Regions from separate parts of the Homo sapiens genome. Here region 1 is linked to region 2. The links come from fine-mapping of genetic effects on gene expression. A gene starts in region 2. The other region holds a variant in brackets. All regions are shown on one strand. Distances are from middle to middle.

The links.
Region 1: its variant is fine-mapped to the expression of B3GAT1 in blood mononuclear cells (TOPMed, PIP above 0.99).

The regions. Positions count from the first base shown.
Region 1 is chr11:134,376,075-134,391,353 of GRCh38, reverse strand. B3GAT1 (beta-1,3-glucuronyltransferase 1) reads left to right here. Exons shown (of 6, transcript NM_054025.3): 2 at 3,414-3,806; 3 at 7,166-7,674; 4 at 8,348-8,644; 5 at 9,330-9,430; 6 at 10,607-12,846. The coding sequence starts at 3,695. The coding sequence ends at 9,416. GLB1L2 (galactosidase beta 1 like 2) reads right to left here. Exons shown (of 19, transcript NM_001370461.1): 19 at 15,030-15,279. LOC124902798 (a long non-coding RNA gene) reads right to left here and starts at 14,558. Exons shown (of 2, transcript XR_007062961.1): 1 at 14,100-14,558; 2 at 13,013-13,290. RefSeq lists an enhancer at 13,994-14,893. The variant G/C (reference allele first, on the strand shown) is at 4,170.
Region 2 is chr11:134,405,904-134,421,182 of GRCh38, reverse strand. B3GAT1 (beta-1,3-glucuronyltransferase 1) reads left to right here and starts at 8,941. Exons shown (of 6, transcript NM_054025.3): 1 at 8,941-9,376. RefSeq lists an enhancer at 9,793-10,352.

The DNA.
Region 1 (15,279 bases), 30 kb after region 2:
GCCCCTGCCCAGCCCAGGCATCACATCCCACGACCTGCCCCCTGCCGGCCAGCTGGCGTTCTCCAGGCTGGGGGCTCTCTGTGTTCTGCTTGATAACTGCCTGGTAATTAGCTCCACGATTTTGCTACTATGCTTATAATAGCCTCCATTAAAGTTATGGGGTTTTCAAGCCATAATGGCTTCCAGAGTAATTAATGCACAACTGGGTTTATTGCTGAGTTTATTTTTAGAGGTTTTCTCCCTCTCTCCCCCTCCCTTTTCTCTCATAGATGTTTTGACCAAAAAGACTGGATGGGAGCAGAAGGCACCCCACGGCACCCTTGCCCACAGGCCCCATCCTCCCCTCTCTTCCCTTCCCGCCCCTCCTTCCTGCTTCAGCCTCCAAGCAGGTGCTAGGGCCCTGCAGTGGGGGCAGCCATTGCAGAGGAGGGTGGCTGTGGTCCAGGCCAGAGGAAGCATTTGGCCTGTGTGTGCCCCTTACCCACCCTGCGCCTGGCCCAGGTTCGAGAGGCTTGGAGGCCTGGGACCTCTTATCCTATGCCCCCGATGACAGCATAGAGCCAGATGGCCTGGACTCAATTCCAGCTCCACCATTTCCTAATGGTTGACCTCAGGCAAGTTACTCCCCTTCTCTGGCCTCGATGAACCCACAGGGACCACAGCCATGCCTACTGCACAGGGCTGCTGTGACGTTGCAGGAGCAGGTGCATGTGAAGAGCTGAGCCTCATCTTCGGACATCTCTCATGCTATAGGGAAGTTTGTATAAACAACAGTGCAAGCGGGGGCTGAGAGGCTGCCCCAAAGGAAAGGCAGTGGCCCACAGGGACTGAGCTGGCAGGACACTCATCTTCTCTCCTTGGCTTTCTCCATCCTGGTATTAGAACCTGCACCAACACCAGGAGCACTTGAGAAAGCTCCTTCGAGAGTCTCTGAGAACACAGAAGAAATCTTCCTGGACATTTCTGAAGCCCCAGCCAGGCCCAGCCTCCCCATCCTTCATCAGATGTGGCCTAAGATCCAAACGTGTCTTGGCCAAAGAACCAAAACGTGTCTTGACACGCAGCCCCATGCAGCCCCAGCAGTGGCCTGGGTGTGGAGGGACAGGCTAAATCTGGGGGATGTGGCATGAAGTCACTTGCATCTCAGACCACAAGACCCAGCAGGCATCCCGTGTGGGGTTCTAGGCTCTGTCCCTCACTGGGCCAGCAAAGAGGAGTTTACGGGCGGACACAGACACACACGGCCTAGAATGTCCACTAGGGGAACTACGTGCCTGTGACGTTGAACCCCAGTGGGTCTTCCACTCCCCGGGGAATGGGTGGGGGAGACTCTCTGGATGGAGTGGGCCTCTGATGGCGGGGTGTGGGCAGGGGATGCCGGCCGTCCTGGGAAACCACAGTGCTCCTTAATGGAGGGGATGCCGGCCGTCCCGGGAAACCACAGTGCTCCTTAATGGAAGACAAATCCTGGTCTTCCACAGGCGTCAGAACTATTTGGAGAGAGGACCCGGTGAGGAGAGGAAAACACGCTATTTTGGAAACTCAGGGGCTAAAAACCCTCCTCGGCCATAGCACTCGACTCTGCCTGAAATGGTGAGCACACGTGAGCTGGGGCAGGAGCAGGCAGCATGGCCCCCAGGTGAGGTACTGTCCGTATCCAACACTGGGCACTGGGACGGGTGGGCACAGTGAGGCTGGCTGGGCTGCCCGAGGCTGCCTGCCCTCCCCACCACCCCCACGGGTCCCTGCTGCATCATGCATGGTGCTCAGCACAGAAGTGAAAAGGGAGGAGAAGAGGATGTGACAGTTTCCAAGGCGGTCAGGAGGTCTCTTCGCCCAGTGTCCTTGCCATGTGAGAGAACGGTTCCCAGAGATGCTACCAGTGGACCCTCTGCAGGACTGAGGAATCCCAGTGGCTCATTCTCCTCACTTGGGCCCCCTGCTGTTCTCATTTTGGAGGACTGTCTCCCCTCAATGTGGCAGCCCCTGCGGGGACCCCTCTTCTTGCTGCTGCCCAGCCCAGCACCTGGTGCTCTGTCCTGCACAGAGCGGTGCTCCACAAGGATGTCCTATTGACACGGAAGAGGAAGGCACTCTCGTACTTCCCCCCAGGGACCATCCCAGAAACATCTCTTCTTTGTCCTCAAAAGACTGTCACCAAAATGCAAATTGAAACCACAGTGAGATACTATCTCACACCAGTCAGAATGGCTATTACTAAAAAGCCAAAAAATATTAGATGCTGATGAGGCTGCAGAGAAAAGGCAACACGTATACTCTGTTGGTGGGAATGTAAATTAGTTCAGCCACTATGGAAAGCAATTTGGAGATCTCTCAAGAACTTAAAACAGAGCTGCCATTCTAGCCAGCAGTCCCATTACTGGGTATGTATCCAAAGGAAAATAAAGTGTTTCACAAAAAAAACACCTGCACCTGTATGTTCATCGCAGCACTATTCCCAATAGCAAAGGCATGGAATCAATCTAGGTGCCCATCAGTGGTGAACTGGGTAAAGAAAACATGGTGCATATACAGCAAGGAATACTACACAGCCATAAAAAAGGACAAAATCATGGCCTTTGCAGCAGCCTGGATGCAGCTGGAGGCCATTATCCTGAGCAAATTGACACAGGAACAGAAAACCAAACACGATGCATTCTCACTTATGAGTGAGAGCTAAACACTGGGTACTCATGACTGTAAACATGAGAAGAATACACACTGAGGACTCTCAAAGGAAGAACGGCTGAAAAACGCCCTGTTGGGTACTATGCTCATACCTGGGCAGCGGGATTCATCATACTCCAGATCTCAGCATCACATGCAATATGACCCATAACAAACCTGCACATGTGCCCCCAAATCTAAAATGTTGAAATTATTTTTAATATAATAATTCGTGGTCCATATATGGTTAAAAAAAAGAAAAAAGAGAGAGAGAAAATAAAACCTCTCACCCCTTTATCCAGGCTTTGATAAGTAGCTGGCATTTTAGGGCTGCACGGGAGTTACCCTGTTTAATTCTGAGAATGACCTTATGAGGTAGGGATCCACAGTGCCCCATTTTATAGATGGGAAAACTGTGGCATGGAGAACGGAAATGACTTGGCAAAGGTCTTACAGCCTGTGGGTGGCACAGTTGGGATTTAAACCTGGTGTCTCTGCAGTCTGTGCTTCTGACCCCTGCACCCTACTGACTTTCATAAATGGAGCAGAGCCATGGCCCTGTGCCTGTGGGAAGGACAGAGCCCATTCCACTCTAACAGGCAGACAAAAGAGGTCCTCAGGTGATGGACAGTTGAGGCTCCATTGTGGAACCCCCGATGCTGTGTGTCCCAGAGCAGGGCCCAGCCTTGCTGGCATCCATTCCTATACCTGGGTCTCTGGCTATCCGCTTCTGCTCTCTCTTGCAGGTGTCCACCCCCCAGGGTTCCTGACCCCTGCCCCTGGACAGCGACCCCTTCTCAGACTCCAGTTGGGCCGGACTCTCCAAACCTGCTTCCGCAATGGGTGGGTTGTGAGTGCTGGTAAGACCTGCTAGCCAACATTCAGCTGCTCTGTCCTCTCCATGCCTGGCCGGCCCGGCCCATGCCTGTTCTTTTCTCCCCTGTGCTGCCGCCGCCCGTGGCCGCCCCTCTCCTGAACTTACCGCCACTCAGGTAATGAGGAGCCGTGGGTGCAGCCAGCCTTGGAGATGCCGAAGAGACGGGACATCCTAGCGATCGTCCTCATCGTGCTGCCCTGGACTCTGCTCATCACTGTCTGGCACCAGAGCACCCTCGCACCCCTGCTCGCGGTACATAAGGGTGAGCACGCACGCATGCCCTGCCTGCCCAGCTGGGCCTTGGTAGTGACAGTGACCACAGCTGACACGCAGGGTTCTTGCTTGCACTCACTTAGCAGCTAGGAGGAACCACGGGATCATCTAGGCCCCTTCATGAGTCTTGCACCCCTTTGGGAATGGGAAGCTAATGGAAGCTACCCACACAGTTTTAAGATGCCTGGGATGGTAGGTTGGCAGACACCAAGACAGTTGCCTTGAAAGAAGAGCTTGTTACTCTCAGCACCCAAGAGGAGGGGGCACGCCCTGCCCCCTGGGGAAGTGCTGAGGTCGGAGGTGGGAAGTGAAGGGAGGGGGAGGTGGGAAGTGGAGGGAGTGGGAGTCTTTA[G/C]TGTGGTTTTGGTAGGAAGGAAAGTGGTTTTCATAGGAAGGGAAGGGCGAAGCACTGTCGGCAGCTGAGCTGGCCCAGAATTGCATAGTCTGAAGAAAGTCAGTGGGTTTAGGATATGGGTGTGGTTTCTAATTGTCTGGTATCGCCCTGGGGTGGTTTAGGGCAGCGGAAGATTGGCTTGGGTGGGAGAGCTCCATAAAGGTGGTAGTGGGTATGAGCTCTAGATCAGGTAGTTTGCATATGAAAAGTGTGTTTGCAGGCAAGGTGTGTACTGTCACTAGGAATTAGCTAGTCCCGGGAGGGGCAGTCCCTCCCCATATCTGCAAGTCCCCCAAGATGTCGACGCATCTTAAAATACAGAAAAACTTAAAAAACAAACATCATTAATACACACACATACACAGAAAGACACGCATGTACAACTTCACATGCCATTTCATGACATGCAAGGAAAGCGACCATTCTGAAGTGGATGGTGGGGGAGGAATAGGATTTCTGGCCTGCAGTGTGTTTTAAACCCTTTCACAGAGAGTATATTGTTTGCCTCTCTTCTTTTCCTGTGTAGGAAACCCTGATCTAGTGCTACCTGGTGGAAATAGGGCTGGAGAGAGGAAAAGTCCCGTGAAGAACTAGTGGAAGAACTAGGGGTAGAACTCCTTTCCCCTGGCTCTGGGTCCTGGGTCGCCTTTCCCTCTCACTCCCAAACCTGCCACGCACCCCACAGCTGGCTGCCCCAGCTCTTCAGCACTTTGTCTCGTGCTTTTCTGCCCCCTCCCCCACTTACATGCACAGGCTCACGTGGGGTCAGGCAGCTGTTCGTTTGCAGCGTGCATGATACCACCTGGCAGTGTGATAAACAAGAAGGCAGCACCAAGCCCATGCAGAGAGAGGTGGTGAGTGCCTGTAACCCCAAGATGCAGGCAGTGTCCAAAAATCACAGCCTGAAGTCGTGCTGCTCCTCACAGTCAAATACCAAGTCCTGCAAACCCATAGCTGTTCCTGAAGCTTCCATGAGGAAGGGCCAAGCTCAACATTGCGGCAGCCCACTGCCCGTGGCTGGCACTTGGCGCCTGTCTTCCTGACATCATCCTCTCCTCCCGACCCTAGGGCCTCTTCTCTGTGCTTGTCAGTTCAGAATCATTGTTATCTTGCAAATACATCACTCCAGAGGGGTTAAAACTACTATATATAAAGCGACATGATATCGTGTCGATTGCGTTCTTGGCAGAGCTCCAGCGCTGGAGACGTCAGGCTGTTTGCTAAGCACTGATGGTGCTGCCTGAGGCTGGGGACTTGGCATTCTGTCTCCCCAGAGCATGCCAAGAGCAAGCGAATGAAAGCTGCAGCTGAGTGAAGTTAGGGTCACCAGGAGGCCTTTAGGACCCAAAATTGCAGACGCCCTGAAGCCAATGGGAAGGGCGAAGCCCAGGAGCACACGCAGTAGCCGTGCCCTAATGTATGGGGACTGTCCAAGGGCACAGGTCCTCTGCGGCCTTGGGATGATTTGGGTGGCAGAGAGGTGGACAAAGTGGCTCCAAACTTCCTCTCAAGGCCTCAGTTTCCAAAACTTGACTGCCCATAGGATGAATTAAGTCCTCTGTCTAGGTCAGAACCCTAGACACCCATCCCGCTTTCTTCCACGTTGCTCTTCTCACAGTTTGACCCCAGACTCCTCTAAGCAGCCCCCTCTGAGCGACTGCGTGTGTGCTGGTTTCCTCCCCCGACCCTCAGCAATTGCTGTGTGCCTGGTGCCATTTGCCCATGAGAACTCCTGAAGAGCCACGAGCAGGCCTCCTGGGTCCGTTCAGATGAGCTCCACGCTAGCGTGCCACACACCCCACATGCTGCCGATGACAGTGGCCGGAGGGAGGCAGCAGAAGAGCTGATGCCCGGGGTCCTCCCCTTTGGTGTGACTTGCTGGTTCTGTCCCCACCGATTGCCTGAAGCCAGAAGGAAGCAGAGTTGGCCACTGCCCTTCCGCAAGAGAGGAAACTGTGCCTGGCGGTGCTCTCAGCCCTTGTGGACTCATTAATCCACATAATAACTCGATAAGTTCGATGCTATTATTAGCTCCATTTTACAGTTGCTGAAATTGAGGCGCCAGAAGCTAAGCAGCTTGCTCAAGGGCACAGGGTTCGTAACGGCAGAAGTGGGCAGGGTCTCAGCCCAGGCACCGGGATTTCTTACCTTTACCACCCGACGGTAAGCTAGGACAGGAGGGCCACACCGTCATTGGTGCATGAGCCCTTCCGATGGAAGGACAGAATTTGGAGAGAAGGGACGCATGGAAAACAAGAATCCCAATGGCCCTGATTTCTCCTCTTGCTAGGACTGCTAGATCTACATATACCTTGGCAACTATGGGCAAAACCCACGAGAATAAAATGCGGTGAAATAGGAAGTTCTGCACCGAGATTCAGAGAATGCCTTACGTAAGGCCAGGAGGGAAGAGGCCCCGCTTGACTGGAGGGCTTGAGAACTCCGGGAGCTGCCTCAGGCTCCTGCGGGCCCACAGTGGGCCCTGGTTGCTGCCGCAGTGCTGCGGCCCTGGGGCTTTGTGGCGTCCACACCACAGCGGGGCAGTGCCACGTGCTCTGCTAGCCCAGCCCTGCACAGGGCAGTGTGGCCAGCTCCCTCCAGATGAGTAGGGCTAGGGAGGGGAGGGTCGGGACGCCTTTTCATAGGAAAGTCAGCACATTCAGGAACTGAGGATGCAATCTTGGAATATGGGCAACTGCGCTCAAATAGCTAGAGGGCTGCAAAGGTGGGAAGGAAGAGGTTATGTCTGTGTCATCAGAGCTAGGACCCTCCCAGAGAGGATTCCAGGGCTGCAGATTTCAACCTTAGAGCTAACAGGTCAGGCAAGGCGGGGGTCTGAGCAGCCCCTGCAGCGGGGGAGGAGGAGGGTGCCCTGGCAGGGTGGGTGGCGTCCCGCTCTGAATCCAGGGCCGTAGCCGGCGCTCTCCTCCCACATCGCCGGTCTCCCGACTCCGCAGATGAGGGCAGTGACCCCCGACGCGAAACGCCGCCCGGCGCCGACCCCAGGGAGTACTGCACGTCTGACCGCGACATCGTGGAGGTGGTGCGCACCGAGTACGTGTACACGCGGCCCCCGCCATGGTCCGACACGCTGCCCACCATCCACGTGGTGACGCCCACCTACAGCCGCCCGGTGCAGAAGGCCGAGCTGACGCGCATGGCCAACACGCTGCTGCACGTGCCCAACCTCCACTGGCTGGTGGTGGAGGATGCGCCGCGCCGGACGCCGCTGACCGCGCGCCTGCTGCGCGACACCGGCCTCAACTACACGCACCTGCACGTGGAGACGCCCCGCAACTACAAGCTGCGCGGAGACGCCCGCGACCCACGCATCCCGCGGGGCACCATGCAGCGCAACCTGGCCCTGCGCTGGCTGCGCGAGACCTTCCCGCGCAACTCCAGCCAGCCTGGCGTGGTCTACTTCGCCGACGACGACAACACCTACAGCCTGGAGCTCTTCGAAGAGGTGAGGGAGGGCCCGACAGTGAGCAGCGGGACCTCCGGCTGCGGGGAGTGGAGGGGCTTCCCGAGAAGGGGGTGTGGGTGCGGAGGCGCGCGCAGGGGGAACCCGGGAAGCCGGGCTGGGAGCGGGGCAGGCAGCAGAGAGCCAGGGAAAGGGATGGAACTGCGGGCTAAAGCATCCCCCACAAGTTAGGGGGAAGACAGGTGGCTCTGGAGCCCCTAAACCATATTCCTGGCCCTAGAGGTATCTCCTGAATGGGTTTGTGAGTAGGTCATTCTGCGTGACTACCAGAAACCTCTTAGGTGGAACAGTTGGAGCTCGCCTGAGTATATGGGCTGTGTTAGTCTCGGGGACAAGGGGAGTCACTTCACACTCTAGAGCGGGGAGACTGAAAGGTTTTAGACAAGGGAGAAAACAGCAGCAGGGCCACGCTGAGAAGGGGAAGACCAGGCCGTCTGAGAGGTCAGGTGTCCCCGGCAGCCCAGGGCAGGTTCTTCTCAGGTGCCCAACCCATGGGATGGGTCCTGGGGGCAGGGCTGTACTGGACACCCCCTAGGTGGCCGCGGCTGGCCATGGGCATAGATAGAGGTGGCTGAAGGATGTCGCCTCCCTTGGGCACGCGCGGCCGTCCTCATCTGCAGTGCCGGCGCCCTGACTCTGGACCCCCCCCTTGTAGATGCGCAGCACCAGGAGGGTGTCCGTGTGGCCCGTCGCCTTCGTGGGTGGCCTGCGGTACGAGGCCCCACGGGTGAACGGGGCAGGGAAGGTGGTCGGCTGGAAGACGGTGTTTGACCCCCACCGGCCATTTGCAATAGACATGGCTGGATTTGCCGTCAACCTGCGGCTCATTCTGCAGCGAAGCCAGGCCTACTTCAAGCTGCGAGGTGTGAAGGGAGGCTACCAGGAAAGCAGCCTCCTTCGAGAACTTGTCACCCTCAACGACCTGGAGCCCAAGGCAGCCAACTGCACCAAGGTGAGACCCTCCGCAGAACTGACAGCTGTGATGCAATGTCTCAAGTACATCCAGACCCTCCCTACAGATCGGGAGAAGGAAACAGAGGCCTCAAAATAGCCTGGGCTTTCTGGAACCCCCTCCCAGGAAGGCAGTGTATCACCTGTAAGGCAGCGACACTGCGGACAGGCAGGGAAAGGGAGAGCAATGGCCACTGGGGAGTTATAACCTCCCACAGAACAGCCGTGCTCCAGCACCTCCCTGCTGAGCACTCATGCACACACACATGCCTACGCGTGCACACATGTGCGCACACACACATGCAGATGCACACACATGCACACATATATGCAGGTGAACATGCACAGACATGCACATATACACATATGCACATGAACATGCATACGTATGCACACACACACACTTGGGAAGTCTTGGGGCTTCTCTTTTCTGTAGTTCTAGACTTCCCATTTCCAGCAGGTATTCCGAAGGCATCACATGTAAAAACAGCAAAAATGAGGGGGTAGTCGAGAGCCACAGAAAATAAATAAAAAACAATTGAGAAAATCTTGATGGAACAATTGAAAAACTCTCGAAGGAAAAGGAGGGGCAGGAGAAATGTTTACACAGTGTGGGAGGGAGCAGGGAGGCAGCAGAGTGAGGTCAGGGGCCTGTCCCACCATGTTTTGCATCTCTGGGCACACAGATCCTGGTGTGGCACACACGGACAGAGAAGCCAGTGCTGGTGAATGAGGGCAAGAAGGGCTTCACTGACCCCTCGGTGGAGATCTGAGCCTCAGGATGCAGGTATGGGCATGACGAGGGTGGGCCACACACTGGGCAGGGCGGCACCAGGTTGGGCCGAATCAACTGTCTCATTCTTTTCCTCTTGGGCTTTCACTGTGGAGGACAGGGCAGATGTGGGCAGGAGTGGAGGGCGTCGTCACCACAGTCCCCTTCCCACTGGGCCACCTGAAAGTATCCAGGCATTAACTTTCACCCACGCAGCTGGGTCCTTCTGCCACCAGACTCTTCAGAGGGTGTCACCTTCCAAACATCTTGCTGATTTTTCTGCTGGCAGTGACGCCTGCACCCCACAAGGCACTGCCATTCAGACTCTCGCTGGCCAGCGTCTGTCCCCCCAAGTCTGCCTCTTCCCCTGTGGATTCCTTCACCACGTGGCCATGGTGAGGACTCACGGACTCGCTGCTCCACAGCAATGAGCCCACGGCTGTCATAGTGAGAGGTAGCGCAGAGTGACAGCACGGACCCAGAGCCCACCTCAGCTCCCAGGACCCCTGCTCTTCACTGTTTGACCTGACTTGACTTTTCTGGGCCTCAGTTTCTTCATCTGTGAAGTAGGTTGCTGAGAGCACCTAGAACAGTTCATGGCACTTAAATCTCATCAGTGTGGCTATTTTTATTCAAGTCTTTAAAGCCCTCTCTGGAAGTAGGCCACAGGATCCACCTACACTTCAGAAGCAAAGAAATGATGTTGAGAGAAGCTAAATGAATGTTCCAAGGTGACACACTGGCACGAGTGAATTGTGCTGGGTGGTTGGCAAAGCCAGGCATTTTCAGGGGCTTTTCTGTGATCTTATCCTGTCTCTTAAAAGCAGCTGGTACTCCTGACTCCCTACTCTAGGTTATGCCAAACAGAGGTTGAGGCCTGAGACAGACATTTGTCCTCTTGCCCTGGAGCTAAGCAATAGCTTCTGTATTGTGTTTGCCCGCAGAGGACCACAGGGTGTCACTCAGTCACCTTGGCCAGCGCCACTTAGAATGCATCTGTACCGAGCCTCACTTCTGCCTCCTGCCCTCACTGCCCTCACTGGAAGCACCTTCCCCACCTGCCCCTCAGAAAGGCCCCCACAGGACCTGGGGGCCTGGGCTTTGCAGAGGTCCTGGTGGCCCTGCCTGGCCATTCCCTCCCCGGCCCCACCCTCAGCCGACACCTCACTCATTCCTCCTCTCCCCTCACAGGAGCCTCCTCCTCAGACCCTGTTCTTGGCCTTCCATCCTCTCCCCACGGCTGATGGTCCCTCCAAGGCCGACTCCTAAGGAATCACCATCACCCTCCTTTCTATTCTGGGGGCTTCTGAGAGAGCCCAGCCTGATGCCAGAACAAAGGACAGAGAATTTAAGCACAGAAATCCCAGACCTGTTGTTCTCTCCATCCAGCGTGACCAGGGCCCGAGAGACCTGATGGCCAGGGTGGGGTGTCCAGCACCAGCCAAGCTGGTGCTCCAGCGCACCTCCCCAGAGCTCCCCGCACTGACGGGGCTGCAGGAGCAGGTGCAGTGGGCGCCCACACTGGCCCTGCAGTGATGCAGGGCGGGAGGGAGATAAGAAGACCCCGCAGTCAAGTGGAGCATGGCCCTCCCTGGCTCCCTGTCCCTGGGCTCAGCACGACCACACAGGACACCCAGCCAGGGAATTCTGAAGACCAGAGAGCAGCCCACGGGCATCACGAGCGCTCTGCTCCTCTCCTGGGCCCCTGCTCTTCCCGAGAGCTGCCCCCAAATCAGACATACCTCTGTGGCTCTCCTCTGGTTCACGTTTACAGAGCATAAGGCTGTCTTGGATCCCAACAGGCACCCAGCCCTGCATGGGGGGAGCCTGGGCCTAATAGGCACCCCCTGTACCTCAGGCTGTGGCGGGAGCAGAGTCCCCCCCTCCGGCCCCTCTTCCTTTACCCCTTCTCCTCCAGCAGTGGCAAAGGGGTAGGCTCTAGAGCCAGCACAGGTCACTGCCTGACCTGGACTAAGAACCCCACGGCCCCACTGTCCACACACTGCCTCCCCACCGCCCACCTCGGCTGCTAGGCCCCTCGCCTGGACTGGACTGGGGAGGGAAAGCGCCTTTTCCTGCAGCTCTTCAGAGCCACAGACCTCAGGGTGGAGTGAGCCCATGGTGGGCAGTGGGCAAGGCGGTGGGTGGTGGGCAAGGTGGGACCTCCTGCAGCCTGGAAAGAGGAGGGAGGCCAAGGCCATTCCCTAACTCCCTCCTGCCCCTGGTCTGAGGAGGAGGGACTCTGGAGTAGCAGAGGGGCTGGGAAAGAGGGGGCAGGGGCTGCTGGGACACTGAGCAGGAGGGAGGCCTGAGCACACTGCTTTGGAAATTATTCTAAACACAAAAAAGGGAAAGAAAATGTTATTTCTCCCTAAGTCAGGAGCATGCAGAGCTAGCCCACCTCATGTCCAGCTGTCCACTTTCCATCCTGGAGAAAGAACAGTGTGCCTCAAACTCCTGCCCTCCCCAGGCCTCTGGGGCCCACTGGAAAGGGCTCTGACCCCCTGGCCCAGCCGGGCTCTCTAGTGGTGATCCGGCTCATTCTCCTGCAAGTTGGAAGCACAATTTTCCCCCCAAGTGGAGGAAAAGGAAAGGGCCCCAGCCTACTGAAGAGGTGTTTATTTTTTAACTAACAGCCTCCCACCCCATTAAGACTCACCAGGAGAGGTCTGAGGGCCATTCAGAACCCACTCCTGAGTGGGTGGGTGGGTGGGACTCAGTCCAGAGACCTAACATTCAGAATATAGCATTGGTTGCCTATTTTGAGATGGATTTAATCTCCCACAGTATTCATGAGACCATCTGATGGAATCAGATCCCTGAGCCACCTTGCAGGACGTTTTCCCCAACCTCTTACACCCTGGATGTCACTTTGGAAACCAAGCCCTTGGAAGCAAGTGGGGTGGCATGGGAGAGAAGGGAGGAGGTGGGCACAGGTGGTGAGCTTATGTGTGGGCACTCTACTGCCTCACAGAAGCCAGCCAAGTGCCAAGGTCAGCTTGGCTGGTCTGAGGCCACCTTCTTAGCCAAAAACCTAGGGTTCATTTTCAGGACTTTGATAATGAACAACAAAATGGGGACTTCTTTGGGCAGATGCTAGGTCAGTTGTTTTCACCTAATATCCTCTTTTAGCTGCATGTATATTTATTTATAATTATAACCCTGGTGGACTGCAGCCTTCATCTTTATTGGGAATGAGTTTGTTATAAATCAGAAATGGGTCCATGATGACCACTGTTTTCCAAACCCAGTCTGTTCCCTGCTCCCTCGCTGGCAAGCCCCACCACACAGGAGTGAGGCCAGGGGCTAGGAGTTCTAAGAACAGAGGCTGGGGTGAGGGTGGCACCCAGGCAGCTGCATCTGGTCTGTTTTAATTTAACTGTATTTAATTTGCTTTCAAAATTAAAAGTCAAATACAGTTTTTAACAGTCCTAATCCTCTTCAGCCCTGCCTTATTTTGTTCTCATTTATTAATTTAGCTACCCAACAAGTATGTATCAGGTGCCTGTTATGAACAGGCATCATTCTAGGAGCCGACACACAGCAGTGAGAAAACAAGGCTCTCATTTTCAAAGAACTGACCCACTGACGAGAGGAGACAGGCAATAACGAATGCATATTATTTCAGATGCAATCTGTTGTATGGAGGATGAGGGTGAGTCGGGGAGACAGAGGTAGCAGTGGAGAGGGTCAGTGCTCTGTAGGGTGACCACAGAGGCCTCCGTGATAAGTGACCCTTGAGCGAAGCAGCAACACCCTGACATGCAGCTCCCCGGGCCCAAGAAGAACGAACTCTCCACCAGGCGGAACAAGCGTTGCTCAGCCTGCTTACAGATCAGCAGGAAGGCCATCGGGCTCAACTGACGGGGCGGGGGCTGCTGGGGGCAACAGCAGTGAGGGATGTGGTGGGCGTGGGAGAAGGGAGTCCCCAGGCACCGGGTGAAACCAGAAGGCAATAGGGGGTCCAGTACGGAGGACTAACATAATCTATCCATCTCTAAGAAGAACTGCCCTGCTCCTCCACGGAGGATAAATGGAGAGGGCAAGGGCAGGTGGAGACGTGGCTCCTGGAATCATCCAGGCCAAGATGCAGTGGGCTGAGTGGGGGCATGGGGTTGGGGCAGAGAGAAGCAGTCAAATTTTGGCCAAGTTTAGGAGGCAGAGCCAGGAGGATCTGCTGCTGGATTGGATGTGGGAGATAAAGAGAGGGGTCCAAAATAGCCCGAGACACAGAACAGCACTGCCATTTCCAGATACAGGGCTGCGTGCAGGAGGGGTAATGTGGGGAAATGGAGCTCTGTGTCAGGTGCCTGTTAGACACATGCAGAAGAAAATGCGCCCCCACACACCTGGAGCTCAGGTGCAGCCCAGCATCGGCGGGCGCGGGTGTCCAACCTGTTTACAAACCACAGGTGCACGGGTGAGACCCTATGCAGTGAGTGTGGACAGAGGAAAGAAACAGCCCAAGGAGTGGGCCAGAGACCCCCAGCATTCAGAGGCTGGATATGAAGAGGGATTCTCCAAAGAGACCTAGATGAGGCCATACCGTGTGGAAGATAATGGAAACATCTTTAGTCAACGCTGGAGAATAAGCTCTGCCAAGAGGTACTTTGATAGAGAAGCTGAGCAATTAACTGGCAGAAAATAAGGGTGAGAATAAGAAGCTGGTGTAGGAAGACCTCACCTTAGGAAACCACAGTGTGTCCTGCTCAGGTCTGCGTGGAAGTGTGATCCAAGGGGCTTCTCCACCTTACAGGAGGATTTGCAGGAAGGTTCCCTTCCATTCCATCACTTTCTGACGGAACCAGCTCATACACAGCTCTGCAGAAGCACACACTCAGGTAAAGCGGGGCAGAAGACCCTGCAGGTGGCTCAGGCCACACCCAAGTAGCCCGAGTCTCATCCACATCTTAGCCCCATGCTTGTCGTTCCGAGGCAGTTCCAGAAGAACTGGTGAGTTTGGGCAAAACCAGGGACTCTGCCCCATGTTGTTCCCAAGCCACTGTCCACAAGCTTTCCTTTAATAAGCTCCATTTAATAAGCCCTTGACCCGGCTCAGCTGCTGGGCTGCACACCACGAATGTCCCCTGCACTCCCCCTGGGCAGCCACACACGGGCAGCAAGCCTGCTGGCCTCAGTGAGCTCCACGGCTCACCATCCCCCAGCCCACCTTCACGGGGCTCCCAGAGCTCTCGCTGTGCCGGGGATGTGTGTGCTACTTGACTTTCTGACTCTTACTGGAGATAATTTGGTTTTGGCAGTAGATGCCAGATGTAGTTTGTGAAGCAAAACTCAACCCCGCAGTTAACTCATATGGAGCGCCCTTGACTGCCTGGCAGATTCTTACCCCCGCCCACCAGCATGAGAATGAATTTGCATTTGAACTGTCCTCTCCAGGGCACTTCCAATCCAGAGACATTTGAAGGGAAGTCGGGGTCAGGAGGGGAATATGAGGCCAGGATCATGGCCCACCCACCCCAGGGACGGTCCCCATCTGGACCCCCAGGCGGCAAGTGGGGCCCAATGGGAACCTGACCAAGAAAACCAAGCTCTCAGACAGCCTTCCCTTCTGGCAAGAGTGGCACACATGACCAGAGACTATCACCAGAGGGGGTGTGATTCAAGGTTATAGCTTTACTGCAACTCAGGACAGTGAGCCCAAGCCAGGTGTTGGGCTGGGCCCCAGAACAAGGCTCAAATGCGGACTTGGACACACTTCGAAGGAGGGCTGCTCTGCCCCTGCTGTTCGGGCGTGGGGGGTGGGGGGCGGGGGCCACTGAGCTGGGCCTTCTGTCCTCCTCCCTGGATGTGCAGACATGGGCCATGGCTTCTGCCAGGACTCACATGTGAGCTGGGCCTTCTGT
Region 2 (15,279 bases):
TCGCACTGACAAGGAGCCACTATCTACGGGAGTGAGGCTGGTCTGATAGAACGCGGGAGCTTCACGGTGGAGAGGCACCCAGGCCAGCACCAGAGGGAGAGGCAGGGAGGACAAGGGCCAGATTCTGCTGCTGGGGGAAAACATGACCAGAGCAGGATAATATATCTCTACCAAGCCAGACCACAAGACAGGGCCCATGTCAATGCCCCTGAGTGCACCAGTGTATACAATACACGTGTCTGTCTCCGATTCCTTATACACGATTGGGAGATGATGGCACCTACTGCTCCTCATCTCATGGGATTATACTCCGTGACAAAAAAGAACATAATTCATTGACTTTTAATAAACGTTTACAATAGCTGATGTTCATTAGGCATCAGGCGTGTGGCAGACATCGTGCCAGGCAAAGCAGCCGATCTAATGAACAAGACACAGTCTGAACATCCAAAGAACTGAAGTGAAACTATGCCCTGACCATAAAAAGTAAGAATGACGGCAGTGAGGATGGTGGTGGGGATGATGGCGGTGATGACAGGCAAGTAAGAATGACGGCGGCGGTGAGGATGGTGGTGGGGATGATGGCGGTGATGACAGGCAAGTAAGAATGACGGCGGTGAGGATGGTGGTGGGGATGATGGCGGTGATGACAGGCAAGTAAGAATGACGGCGGTGAGGATGGTGGTGGGGATGATGGCGGTGATGACAGGCAAGTAAGAATGACGGCGGTGAGGATGGTGGTGGGGATGATGGCGGTGATGACAGGCATCCCTCCACAAAGGCACCACTGCCTGGTGACTGATTTTCATGTGCAGTGAAAGATTGTTCCTCCTATTGCTCATCTTGGCTACGAGCTAAAAGACATTAAAATGCTTTTGTACAAAGCAAACAGTATGCATATTTTATGAAATACATTCCTCTGCCTGTTTAATTGTGAGATCTTCAAAAGAGGCAGAGAGATTCACCATTCACCACTGGCATGAATGGATGGGGTTTCAGTGTCAGCCTTGGGAGGCCCCCTGATGCTGTCATGTCCTGGCTCTCTAGGCCTGTGGAGGAAGGAGCTGGAGGGCTAGGCCCTAAGATGTGGCCTGGCCACTTTCGTTCCTCCGGGATCCTCAATATGTCCAGTTGTAAAGTTAAAATATCTACTTTCCCACTGCCTAAGGTTTCTCAAGCCTGGTTTATCACAAATCAATCTGCTGAGATTTACAATAATAATGGTGGTTTTATAGGTCATTAGAAGTGGGTTGTCCTGGAGACTCCTAGAAGTCACCCACACTAGGTTTCCAGAAGCATCTCTAGTGGTCTTCCCAGGTGCTTTCACTGCCAGGACACTCCCATCCTGCCCCTAATCCTTAGTCTAGAATGTGGACATTCCAGTTCCCTGGCAAAACAACACTGCAGCTCTCAAGGTGGTTTCACACTGAGGCTCTGCTGGGCCTTCCTATCTAGCAAGTGTGGACATCTCCAGGTGGTCTGTGGCTGGCCACACCAGGCCAGGCCTAGGAGAGGACTGTGTGATTGTCCCAGCTACGTCAACAGGCAAATGTCACTTAACAAAGCCTTGCATAGGTTTATCAAACAACTGGTGGCCTGGAGCCGGGGACCTCCTCACTGCACAACAGAACTAACTCATGGAAATCGGCTTTCAGTTCTGCCAGTTGGGCCACCATCACACAAAGACAACTGCACCTTGATTTGAAGACCAGGAACCAGGACTCCATCATACCTTCTCTACACCAGGAACTTGCCATCAGCCCCATAGAACACTGTCTTTATCCCCCTGCATTGTAACTCTTCCATTGTCCCTTCTCCCTATTAGACCGTAAGCTCATCGAGGGTAAGTAAGAAGTACTGCCCAGTAACCAGCATCTAGCGGCACCCAGTAAATGGTGGTTAAGTGAGCAAACAAAAAATGGAGGAACTGAAAGATGAGAACATATAGAACTATTGATTTTTACAGACATATAATATGACAAGTTAAAAGGATCTTAAATATCACCTAGCAACCAGAAATGGCCCCCCTGCTCTCTCTCTCTCTCTCTCTCTCTCTCTCTCTCTCTCTGTGTGTGTGTGTGTGTGTGTGTGTGTGTGTGTGTGTGATTACCCTGCCACCCACTCAAGGCAGACATCACTAATTGGTCATGGTGCCCTGTGCTCCTTACCACAGATGTAGCTTCAGTACATTTCACCCAGCTACAACTAGTTTACTGAAATCTGCATCCAGGATAAAACTGATTTGCCATCCCAGATCCAGCTCAGCCCCCTCCTTGGGAACATGAGTCCTCTTAACCTTCTCCAGTCCTTCCCCAAATAGTACAGTTTCCACTCACATGCCTTATCTAGCTGTCACTTTAAAGAAGGTCCTGCCTCTTTCAAAGAAACACAATGACAATGCCTGGAAAAAGGGCTCCGTGTGGATGTCACCTGGCTTCCACAATGCGATGCCTTCCTGCCAAACCCAAGTTCGGCTTCCAGAGTCCTGATACTGCTTACATCCAGATGCGGGAACATATGCCGCGCATGAGTGGAGCTGGCCTCGGTGCTGAAACATGGATATGTATATATGAGACTGTAAAACCTACATTATTGAGGATTTAGGGTGTTTGCTTTGCTGAATGAAGGATTAGAGACCAGAAAGCCCAAAATGACCATCCGTTTGCAGAAAACATAGCTGGAGGATTACAACTGTCAGATGTGTGCTCAAACCCAGGGGGCCCTATTAAAGCTCTCCCTAACTCCCTAGACCCTTAATCTATCACTAGGCTATGGGAGGACAGATCACCAGTTCCCTACAGAGCCCCTGAGTGTTTTCAGCCAGGAAGTCGTAATCAGATAAAAAGCAGTTTTTCCAGCTCCAGGCATGGGTGCAGCCACAGAGGCTTGGGAGCTAATTGTCTGGGCAGTAGGCCCAGGACTTCGATCTTTGGGATCTCAGTGAAGGACCAACCGTTTCATGTTTTGATGAGAGCAGTACCCAGGGTTTCCAGTGGCCTAGCTCCATCATGTTTTCTCAATATCTAAGGAGGGAGGAGCTTTGTCCCTAACACTCAACATGCTTTCTATTCACGGGTCCATATTTCCTCTCTCTCACTTCCCAGAAATCCTGCCAGACTCTTTCTTGTCTCATAAAGCCAACAGGGAAACGTTCTTCAGTCCCGCCAGCTTCCCACAATCAGCCAGGAATCTGCCAGGAAGTATTTGATGTGAGTTATCTCTTTTCCTATCTGGCATAACACATAGTTCAGACCACATGCAGGTTGGGCAAAGGACATCAATGTCCAGTAATTCCAAGTGTCTTTCTTCCCAACTTTGCCACCCTGTTGGCTCCAGGGGAACAGAAAGAAAGTCACCGGCCTGAGTCATCTTGAAATGGAGGAGCGAGATCTTCCAATATGTTGAATTACGCTTCTCAAACCTTTCAGTATGCAGCCTTTCTTTCAGAATATGCCTGAACAAAAACCACTGTTGTAAGTCTGAATTCACCAACAAGTGTTATGGTCTTCTCTTCCTCTTCCATCCAAAAAGTCGCTGTACCCCAACCCCTTGGGTGATCACAAAAAGGTTCTGAAGGCTGCTGCCCACAGGAGACCCCTCTGCCTCTCCCAGTTTTTGACATTTGCAGCAGCCCCTGCCCAGGTCTCAGTGTGGCTTCTCAACAGCTCAGCCTTCTGCCCGGCTCTTCTCCCCTGCAGAAAAATCCGTGGTAGGCACATGGGGAAGGGCAGACAGTAGACAGAAGAATCCGTGGTAGGCACATGGGGAAGGGCAGACACTAGAAGCGAAACACTGAAACCTCAGGCTGGAGAAAACCATGGGACCATAAGCAGGAGCTGGCCCTTCATTTCTGTCTTTCCCACACCTATCAAAATTCCTGGCCATCGGAGCTGCTCAGAATTTTGATGAATGAATAAATGGAATCAGCACATCCATGTGGCAGGACTCCTAGCACCTTTTTTCTTTCTTCCAAATCCCAAAAGGAAAGGGTAAGGAGTCCTTTCTGCAGATGCTCTACTAATACCCAAAGGTCTAGGATGTCTGCCCATCACCCAAGCCACGGAGGGGAGTTTGGGCAGGAAATTAGACGACTCCATCCATCATATTTATTGAACAGCCACTCTCTGGAAGACGCTAGTGCAGGAGGTCACTCACGCACATGAATCCTCAAACTCCAAGCAGAGAGTGTCCTTTCCGCTCCCCATGGCTCTCTCCTCTCTCTCCACTCTCCAGCCTCACCTGCTGCACGTGTTCCTCAAGCACACCAAGCCTCCCGCAAACCCCTCAGGTCGCCTATCGCTGTCCTCCTTGCTGGGCCAATATTCCCCCGGGTTTTGGCTCAAACATGGCCTCTTCAAAGAGCCTCTCCCTGATCCTACCCTCCCAGGACTCTCTCCAGCTCTTGACCCTATTTCTTCCCTTCCTGTATCTCCTCCACCTCTGTTTGTTCTGTGCATTTGCCCATCTATGGACCACTAGCATATAATCCCTGAGTTGTGCTCTGACGATGAGCCTGAGTCCTGGAACTAGGCTGCCTGCCTCAAATGCTGGCTATGTCACTTACTAGGCATGTGACCTTAATTAAATTACCTAAATACTACGCCCCAGATTCCTGACCTATAAATGGAAACTATAATCGAAACTTGTCACAAACAGTACCTTGTAAATAACACCTTACATATGAAATTAGCTAACGTGCATGAAGACTTGGAACCTAACCTGGTGCATACATATAAATGGCCTAATTGAAGTTAACACTCCTAATTGCTGTTGTTTACTGCATGTCTCTGGTGCCCAGCACAGTGCCTGGCATATGACTGGAGCTCAGTAAATATTAGCTGAACACAGGAAAGCATGCACAGATGGGTAAGAGCCTCCAGATGTGTCCGGATAAAGTGCTATGGGACTGAGGGGAAGAGCAGTTCACTGCCAGAGGTGCCTGAGGGTCGGGAGGGCTATAGGAGACAGCACAAGCCACAGAGCTCAGGTTGGGAAAGGCTTCAGTGAGACTTTGGAGGTGTGGGCTCTGCAGAGTAGTTAGGGGATAGTGGGGAGGTCAAAAGGCAATCTGGGTTATTTTCACTTCTGCAAGAGGACAAAGAACGGTCCCAGGTTAGCCTCAGAGATGCTCCCCTAAGTCTGAGGGCTCTGCTCCTATCACCTCTCATCCCTCCCTCAGCCACAGAGGAAAGAAGGCAAAACAAAATGACATGACTGAAGTGTTCTAAAGCCATGTAACTGCACCCTTTCCCTGGAGGCAGAGACTGGAGAGAAGCAGGAGTCAGCCTTTTTGCACCAGCTCAGGAAAGATGCCGGCCTGGCTTCTGAGAAGAGAGGAGGGCAGAGGGAAACCTGTTGACCACATGACCATTTTCAATTTTTTATGGACAAACAAGGGTGTTCAAGATCCAAAGCTCAGACCAGAAACCTAATGAAAGGGAAGAGTTAAAAGGTCTCCTCCTCTTTCTGTATCTGGGCCATGAACTCCACCACCCAAAACAGCACATCCACACACATCCGTCCAGGAGCCACTGTGGGAACAGTTCAGACACGCCTGATAGCATGGCTGGGTCCCTGGGGAGCTCACCCTGCCTGCCGAGGCAGAGGGCAGCTCTTCCTCCTCTCACTCCCCCTGCTCTCTGGCAGCATCTGGGTGTGCCCATGCATGTGCATGTGCTGTCACCCTTGCCAGGGCAATGACGGGAGAGGACGGGCACCTTGTGGGGTGGGATTCCTCACTGAAGAATCCCACTGGGACCTTTCCACTCACATCAGCAAAATCACTGCTATAGATTCCTGGTGAAGGCAAGGGGAGATTGGATGGCCCCCAACAATCAGACTGGCTAAGACGGGTGGGGTGAGGGCCTGGGCCCCACAGGCCAGGGCGGCAAGCAGCGCAGCTGCGTTGCCTCTCTTGGGTGGTAGCTAAGAAGGACGGCACGGCTGAAAAGGCAGTATCATTAGGAGTCTGGAGCAGACCAAAACTCCTGCTGAAAGAGAGGCCAGGGCAGACAGAACCCACGAGGGGAACAATTAACTGATAAGAGTAAACTAATTGTTATTCATATTAAATTAGGGCACAGGTGATTTGGAGAAAACCTACAGACCATCCCAGATGTTTTGCAGGTTTTGCATTGCAGATGACGGTTTTACAGGACTCTTCTGGGATTCAGATTATGGGAAGTGGGCCAGGATCAGAGCGGGGGCAGGGCTCCCGTCCTGCTTAACTACACAATAAACACATAACGGTTTGTCCCAGAGGACAAACCCGGGCTTTGCATACTAAACATGCTGGTGCTAGGCTTTGGGGGCCTCTGAGAAGAGGGGCTCACTACTGGCAGGGAAGGCAGGGGGAGGGGAAGATCAATCATTCAGGGAGACCTTAGAGGTGCTCCAGATGTTTGGAGCAAGGGTCAAGCTGTGAGGATGCACCAAGTCCAGACATGGGAGGGAAGGATTTCCACAGTCCTGCAGAGGCCAAGCAGGAAGACAGGGGTGGGAGTGTGGCTGACCCGGGGGATGGTGTGTGTACACGTGTGTCTGTGTGGGTGCAGGTGCTTCAGGTACATCCGTGTGCAAGCGTTTACATGTGCACATGATGTATTTCAGAGTGTGTGTGTGTGTTCATGTGGGTGAATCTGCATGTGTAGCTGCCTCTATGAGCATGTTTTGTGCCTGCGTAGATGTCAGTACATTTGTGTGTGTCCATACACTTGGGATGTTGCCAAAACTTCCCACCAAAACGAATGGCAGGCTGTTGTCTCTTCACTGAGCCTTATCATGCTAATTTTAATCTCCTATTATTGTTTTAAATTGGCTCTAAAAATTAATACTAAAAATTCTGTAAACAGAGCCTGGAACTAAGATGCAAGACAGGTCCCTTGAAAGCGGCTTTATTATCACAATTGTTCCTGCCAGAATGCTGAGGTAAAGCCGAGAACCCCTGCAGACAGCATCTCCGAGCCACAGCCCAGCAGGACAAGTCGGACCACAGCCCACTTAGTCCAACCCTCTGTTTCATTACTGAAACCAGCCCTGAGGGGAAGTCTTTTGCTAGTGCCTTCAGAATCGGCCTGAAACCCAGGCCTCCTCGTCGCCATGTCCCTGAGCTCTCTTGAGATCACCCCTCATGGGTGTGTTTCCCTGTTGGTAAAATGAGGGTCTGGAACGAGACAGTCTTCACGGTCATTTCTGTCCTCCCATTTGGTGATTGTGTGACTGCGGCTGGCTGGCTTAGCAGAGGAGGGAGGCAATGTGCCCTCCTGGACGGCCTGGCCCCTCCTTGGTGCTCTCTGGTACCCCCGCCCATCCTGCTTCTGCACCTGCCCTTCCCCTCCCTTCAGCTGGTGTGGAGTCTAAGGAGAAGCAGAGTATGGAGACTAGGAAAATACCAGAGAACACCGACTTAGGAAAGGTCTCTTAGCAGAGTCTAAAAGAGAGGGTTGTAGTAGGGGCAGAAGAAGGCGGAGCAAGGCTGGCTGGGATTCCACTCATTAAGAGAAGGGGGAAATGCTCCTGTACCGCAGCAGGAGGTACTGAGGTTAGATTCAGAGGAAGTTTCTTGCCGGCAAAGGGGGCTGTTAAGCACAACAATGAAAGAGCGCACGACAAGGAGGAGCAGTTATCCCTAGAGATAGTCACTAAGGACACTTTCACATGTCTGTGGCATGATACGGACGGTGAGGTGCCTTCCTCCCCTCAAAATCTTGACCAAAGGGGCTGATTCTGGAGTCTCTGCCCCCTCCCCACCTGCACATCCTCAGTGGGAAGAGCAGGGCCCGGCTTGGTCCTAACAGGGCAGGAAAGCTGATGGAAAAGAGGCCCGTGGTCCTCAGCCCCAGCCCATAGCACGGGGGCACAGCTCTGGTTAAGCAGTGCCTAGCAGTGGGGCTGGAACTGGTTTCCCGGGAAGGAGGGAGACCCTAGAGAAAGTACCGACAGTCCCTGGTCCCGCCGCGAACCCCGCCATGGGAGGTGGCCTTCTCCTGGGGCTGTGAAGAGGACACAGCGGGTGTGGCCCGAATACAGGTGTCCAAGAGCACCGGGAGATGCCAACCTCTAAAACGAGTGCAAGGATGGCTTCAAAGTCTCCGACAAGCTGAAGGAGTATCTGGAATATACAGCTCCACAGAGGCACCCTACCAGTGCACCCACATACGTCCAAGTGCGCGCCCACTCACTGGCCTCCGTCCCCCGCCGACCAACACACCGCGGCAGAGGCCCGGGAAACTCCTGGAGATCCCGCTGCCCCCGGCCTCCCCGCGCCCGTCCGCCCACGCAGGCCTCCCGGGCCTCTCTCCGGAACGCCGGGTGCACCGGCCCGGAAGGGGAGGCTGGGGTGAGGCTGACGCGCGGCGGCTCGAGGTGCCCTTCCACGGGGCAGCAGACCCCGTACCCCGGCACGGCACCGTCCGCCCCCACCGGCCACCTCCCATCCGGGGTGCCTGGAGCCAAGGAAGGAGCCGCATCCCCCACCGGCTTCCCAGCTCGGCCTCTCGGTCCCAGAGCGCCGCCCCCCGCCCTCCTGCAGCAGCCCGGCCGGAAACAATCACCCTTTGAGAGAGGCTGCCAAGCTGGGCGCCAGGAGCAGCCAGGATGGAGGCGGGGTGGAATGGGGGTGCAGGCGGGGGCCGAGCTTTAACTCTCGAGAGCCGAGATCTGGGGGTGCGCTCGGCCCCTGCCCGCCACCCCTGCTCCGCCGCCTGAAGCGGGAGCCGCCTCCGCGGGGGACGGTGCCGGGGGAGGGTGGGGGGCGGTGGGGAGGTGATACCAATCCCGGGGGGGGGTCCCCTCGCCGGCCTCCCTCCTCGCGCCCCCGCCTAGGCTGGCGAGGTTGGTACCGACCATTAGCAGCTCGGGTCCCGCCGGCGCTGGCGCGGGCTCGGGGCGGGGGCGGGGCGGGGGCGGAGAGCGGGTGGGGGCGGGGCGGGAGGCGCCGGCAGAGCCGCGGCGGCACCGGCGCATCCGCCGCCACCTCGGGGACTCTGCGCCGGCCCGGTCGGCTCGGCTCCGGCCGCGCGCCCCCCTCGCCCCTCTCGCCCCCGCGCCCGCTCCCCGCTCCCCCTCCCCGCTCCCCCTCCCCGCCCCCCGCCCCCCGCCTCCCTGCCCGCGCCCTCCCTCCCGCGCGCTCCCAGCCTTCGGCCGCCGCCTCGCTGAGCCCAGAACGAGCCGGGCCGGGGCGGCGGGGCCGGGCGGGGCGGGCGGGCGCGCGGACCCCGCGGCTATGAAGTGGCCCCCGGGGGCCCGGAGCCCGACAGTCCCCGGGGAGGGAGCCGCACGCGGCCCAGGGCAGCGGTCTAGGGGCGCCGGGGCCGGGGCGTAGGGGCCGTTGCCCGCGATGGACCGCACCGGAGACGCTCCGGACTCGTCGCCGCAGGTCAGTGCTCCCCGCGCCCCCGCGGGCGCCCCGCCGCGCACAGAGCCCCTTTCTGCGTCCCCATCGGTGCCCACGCCATGTCCTCCCGGGCGCGCGCTGGGGTGTGTGTGTGTGTGTGTGTGTGTGTGTGTGTGTGCGCTGCGCGCGCTGGGGGCAGCTGGAAAGGGGGCCGAGAACCGAGCTCGGGCTGGGAGGCGCTGCTGCCGAGGGGCTGCGAAACAAAACCCGGCACAGCCTGCCCTCGTCGACCGGGATTAGGGGAAGAGCTGGTTCTCAGCAGCTTCTAACAATCGGCCCGGGCTCTCAGTCGTCAGTTCCCGGCCCCCTCAGCAGGTGGTTTCTGGTGGCCGGATGAGGAGTCAGGGGTCAGTCGTCCCCCACCTCCCCACCCCTGCTGCCCAACAGCGCTCTCTGGATCGCTCTCTGGCTCCTGGGCACTGCCAAGTTAACTCTCTTGAGGGGGCCCGAGCTCTGCGGGGCGCGCTGAGGGACCCAGGGGTAGCAAGGGTGGCAAAGGGCCCTTGGGACCTTCGGTGTAGCAAGGAGGAAGGAGGCGCGACCAGTTCACCACCCTCCCATCTGCACCTGGGCTCAGGTCTGAGGTCCCAATCCCTCCAAAGTCAGAGCACACAACTTCCAGAAAAAGGAGGCTGAGAGTTGAGGCAGGAAATAGAGAAGGAAGCCACCAGGTCCGACAGTGCCAGGGTAAGGAGGTGACAGCCCCGTACCAAGCAGCTAAGGTCAAGAACCACCCCCACATGCACACACATGGGAGCCTTGGCCAACTTCCCTGTCCCCTTCCTCCCCCAGCCAGGCCTAGCTGCATGGATTCTTGTAGAAGCTGGAGCTGAAGGACTCTGGACATACAGGAAGGGGACCTTTACTGACAGTTGCTAGCCCAGTGCATGGGCACCTGCATAGGTGGGGTGCCCAATGGGGCCTAGAGCTTGGGCTGTGTAGCACGCACTGTTGAAAATGTTGGGGTACGGATGTCGTAGGGCCTAGCACTGTGCAATGCCTGGATGTGTTTGTGTGGAAATGGGAGGCACATCACTCCCTAAGTTACTAGGGCTGTGGGGCATGTGGCTGCACAGGACTGTTGTTCTAGGGTTTTCTAAGATTTGTCTTCTGTGCTTATGTCGCCCTACCTCTGCTGGTAGCCACTGCAGAGACTGAGACATTTCCTCCCAGAGTCTGCTCAGTTGGTGACCATTAATGGCCTTACTGGACCAAACATCAAGCCTTCCCTTTCTTCCCATGGGGTGAAGACCCTTTCCCAGGGTCTTCAGACAGACTTCTCACTCTGCCCAGTCCATGCCCAGCACTGCCAAAGGTTCCAGAGCTTAGAGACATTTTCCCTCTTCCCCTTTTCATGGAAGCAGAAATACTTGCTAAGGTTAATGGGACTGGGAGAGTTAATGCATCTGTGCCCCATTCAGCACTGGAGCCAGGAGCTCGCTGTTCCTGTTTCTGTGCCTGACCCCAGGATGCTTGGGGATCACTCCAGGTCCAGGTGAGCTGGAAGCTTGCAGGCGCTGTGTTGAATATGTGTGTGTAGGTTTCTGGTTGGGCAGTTACTCACTGTTCCACCAGAAGCAGGGGGCAGGTAAATCACTGAGGAGATAAGCTCCAGCAACAGGATTGGAGCCCGTGGCGGAGACCAAGGAGCTTCACAGGAGGATGCCCTGGGGCAAGCCCAGTTCCTCAGCTTCGGCTTCTGGGGAGACCTGAAGGTTCTCTTAGTGGTTTCTCGGGGATAAGGGGACCAAGTCAGATATACTTTTCCTAGGTGTGGAGCACAGGGTGATGAGGCCGGCCAGGAGCTGGGAGTGTGAGATGGGGAAGAGGATGCACCAACCGAAAGGCTGAGCGGACAGGAGCATGGTGCTCCATTGTTTCTGGAAGAGAGGGATGAGTGTTCCTCTCTGATGAGAATGGAGAGGAGGAGAGGAACGGGCTCAGGAGGAGGAGGAATCCGAGAGAGAGCCTGACTGAGGCAGAGAAAGAGGCAGTGAGACAAGAGACAAAGGCACGGAGGCGCACTGGCGGACAGCAGAGGGAGGCACACAGGCAGAAGTCAGGGCCTCCCTGACTGAGTGGTGAGTTGGGGCAGGCTGGGGGCCTCCCCCTGTTCCCCTACATCGACCTCAGCAATTGTCCACCCCTGCAGGAGGCCCCTCACTAGAGCAGTTGGACATTCTACTGAGGAAGGTGCTTTCCTGTGGCTCTCAGGAATGTGAGGGTCTTTTAGACAGAAGCCCAAAGGCAGAGGGAGGCCAGGCTATGAGGTCAAGCACATCAAGAGCTTGCAGGGACTTTCAGGGACACCCTTCACCCCTGAGCATCTCACAATGCTGAGGGCTCCTCTCCATCTTCTGGCCCTGCCCCAGCCCTCCTGGTCCTGGAATGCAGGGCAGTGGGGAAGGATGTGGGGTCTGGGGAAACCTGGCACTCAGGAGAAGAAGAGAAGTCATGCACCCCCTCCCCAGGCCCCCAGGCAAAAAGACCTTTGGGGACCCTACTGAAGACTAGCCAGGGGACATGGAAGAAGTGCAGTGGGGACAGGCCCTTGGCCAGGCTGTCTGAGGTCCAGTCTCATCTCCATCTGTGGCTAGCCGAGTAGACTTTGAAAAAAACAGAGCTCTCTAAGCCCCGGCTTCCTGGCAGTCTATAAATTGGGAAACTGTCATCTCACCAGTTTTTAGAAGAAATACTAGATGAATTTTAATTTAATCTATTTATTTTATACACCCTCACCCCCTTGCTTCCAGGATGAGGATGGCTCTAGAATTTGGAGTAGCAGCGTCAGGCCAGCCCTGGAGCCAATCCCACTGGAATCGGTGCAGGCTGTCCCACCTCCCTCCTCACCCCACTGGAATAGGTGGAGGCTATCCCACCTCCCTCCTCACCCCACTGGAATCGGTGCAGGCTGTCCCACCTCCCTCCTCACCCCACTGGAATAGGTGCAGGCTGTCCCACCTCCCTCCTCACCCCACTGGAGTCGGTGCAGGCTGTCCCACCTCCCTCCTCACCCCACTGGAATAGGTGCAGGCTGTCCCACCTCCCTCCTCACCCCACTGGAATCGGTGCAGGCTGTCCCACCTCCCTCCTCACCCCACTGGAATAGGTGCAGGCTATCCCACCTCCCTCCTCACCCCACTGGAATCGGTGCAGGCTGTCCCACCTCCCTCCTCACCCCACTGGAATAGGTGCAGGCTGTCCCACCTCCCTCCTCACCCCACTGGAATAGGTGCAGGCTATCCCACCTCCCTCCTCACCCCACTGGAATCGGTGCAGGCTGTCCCACCTCCCTCCTCACCCCACTGGAATCGGTGCAGGCTGTCCCACCTCCCTCCTCACCCCACTGGAGTCGGTGCAGGCTGTCCCACCTCCCTCCTCACCCCACTGGAATCGGTGGAGGCTGTCCCACCTCCCTCCTCACCCCACTGGAATCGGTGCAGGCTGTCCCACCTCCCTCCTCACCCCACTGGAATCGGTGCAGGCTGTCCCACCTCCCTCCTCACCCCACTGGAATCGGTGCAGGCTGTCCCACCTCCCTCTTCACCCCACTAGAATAGGTGCAGGCTGTCCCACCTCCCTCCTCACCCCACTGGAATCGGTGCAGGCTGTCCCACCTCCCTCCTCACCCGCTTGAGTCCTCACACCTCCAGACTCTGGGCTGGACCCACCCTTCCTTATCCCAACCCAAAGAACCCAGAGCCCGCCTTGGCTCAGAGTTCGTCCTTGCCAAACACAAAATAATACTTTCGTGTCTAATTATTGTTAAATGTAATCCTTCCAATTTATCAGCAAATGGTCGTCTAAAAAAAAAAATCTTGACACCAAAATTCCAGATCTGTGAGCCCTTCTTATCCATGCTGAAAGGTGACAGGGTGGTCAGAGAGCCCCCAAAATTCAGTTCACTTGCACCAACACTGACCAAGCACTTACGGTGTTGGAGGCTCTGCACCAGGTGCTGGGAACGTGAAACATCAAATAATCCAAAAGTCCAAATCTAGTGTTTTCTGTTTAGCTTTGGAAGGGTTATGTGGGTTGCTTTTTTTTTTTTTGCAGCTACAGCAAATTTACTTTTCTAATGAGGTTTAGCTCCAGCCAATATTAAAATGAGCCTGCGCTCCCTGCGCACACACCAGCTGACAGCAGGGCAGGAGGCAGCCTCCGCGCCAAGTGCCTGGCAGGGATTAAGGCTTTACCTCTGATAAGCGCAAAAGTGGAGAGTATGAGTCTGGATCAAGAGTTGACTGGATTTGAGGACTAACCTTGCCCAGGGGGCTGTGGATTCCACGGCTCAGTCTTCTGAGCCATGGCAGGAGCTCTCTCTTCTCATACGTGGGAAATGTGAGCCAGCTCTCTGCTCACAGGAAGAAGACCTAGAGGGATGGGGGAGTGGAGACATGACGGCACGGCGTGGGGAGTGCCAATGGCACTGTAGTTGGAGGCCTGGCTCTGCCCGTCCTCTCTGGCTGGCTATGTGGGCTGGGGTCCTCTCCTTCCCCTCTGCCCATCTTGCTTCCTCTGTCTGTGGCAGGTGAGCAATCTGGCCTCTGAGGCCATGAGTCTCTCTTTGAACCCTGGGCTACTCATTTGTCCATTGTTCAGAAACTGTTAGAGCCCCACACTGGGCATGGGGGGCTGCATCCGTCCCCACCCTGAGCAGCTCCTCAGTCACACCAGCCACATTTCAAGTGGGCAACAGCCACATGTGGCTAGAGGCTGCCATCTTGGGCGGTACAGATACAGAACGTTCCCGGCAGCACGGAAAGTTCTAGTGGGCAGAGTGTTGTGGACCTGAGCCTGCACAGGTGTTTTGGGCACGGAAAGTTCTAGTGGGCAGAGTGTTGTGGACCTGAGCCTGCACAGGTGTTTTGGGCACGGAAAGTTCTAGTGGGCAGAGTGTTGTGGACCGGAGCCTGCACAGGTGTTTTGGCAGGGTGGCTAAGTGCCAGGTCCTACTGGCTGGATTCAGGTCCTAGTTCTGCCACTTAGTAGCTGTGTGGCCTCAGGACGTTGCTTAACCTCTCTGTGCCTCAGACTTCTCACTTTTAAAATGAGGGTAATAATAGGATGTTTCTGAGGAGGAAATGAGTCATTACAGTTAATCATGCTAATCACTCAGAGCATGCAACAGCAAGAGCTTTTTTATTTTTTATTTGAAAATAGAAAGCCATTTTTATTATTCATTTATTTAACAATTCACTTAAAGGCTTATTGAAAAGCCCACTCTGCCAGGCCGCCCCCCCACCCACCCAATCAACACAAGTCCTGGCTACCTCTGTGACCCTTCCTGAGCCTCCACCTCCTCCCCTAGGATGGGATTATTCCTGACTGAGTGCTCACTGAAGCCCAGGGAGCTAGAATGAGATGAGGAAAGCAACCTTGCTTTGTGCAGACGCAGCCAGATAGAGGGGCTGATGCTTTTTGGAGGTGAGTGCCACTGAAATTCTGTTTTGTCACTAAAAAGCATCTGCTAAGCCCCCACACTTTCAGAATAAGAGCAGCAAAGGAGGCATGGTTAGCTGCCACCAGCCAGCACCATGTCGAGCAGGGATGGAGGAAGGGATGTGAGAGGCCCCTGCCTGGGCTCACCCCTCCCTGGTCTGGAGGGCGAGAGCCCAGAGGCTGCTGTGGGCTTAGTGGAGGGAGCAGAGCCTGGAGGTCTCAGAGGCCAACTGTGCTGCCACGAGCCCCCCGGGCGCTGGTCCCAGCTGCGTCTGCAACTCACTGTGCCACAGACACTGGTGGGGCCTCAGTTTCCTCGTCTAAGACAGGAGGGACAGGGCTGCATGAGCGTTTCCTCACCTGGAAAAATCACTTCCACAGAGCGACCCAAGCCGGAGGCCAGAGGGAGGGACCCTGCCCACCAAGCCACCAGGGGTGGAAGG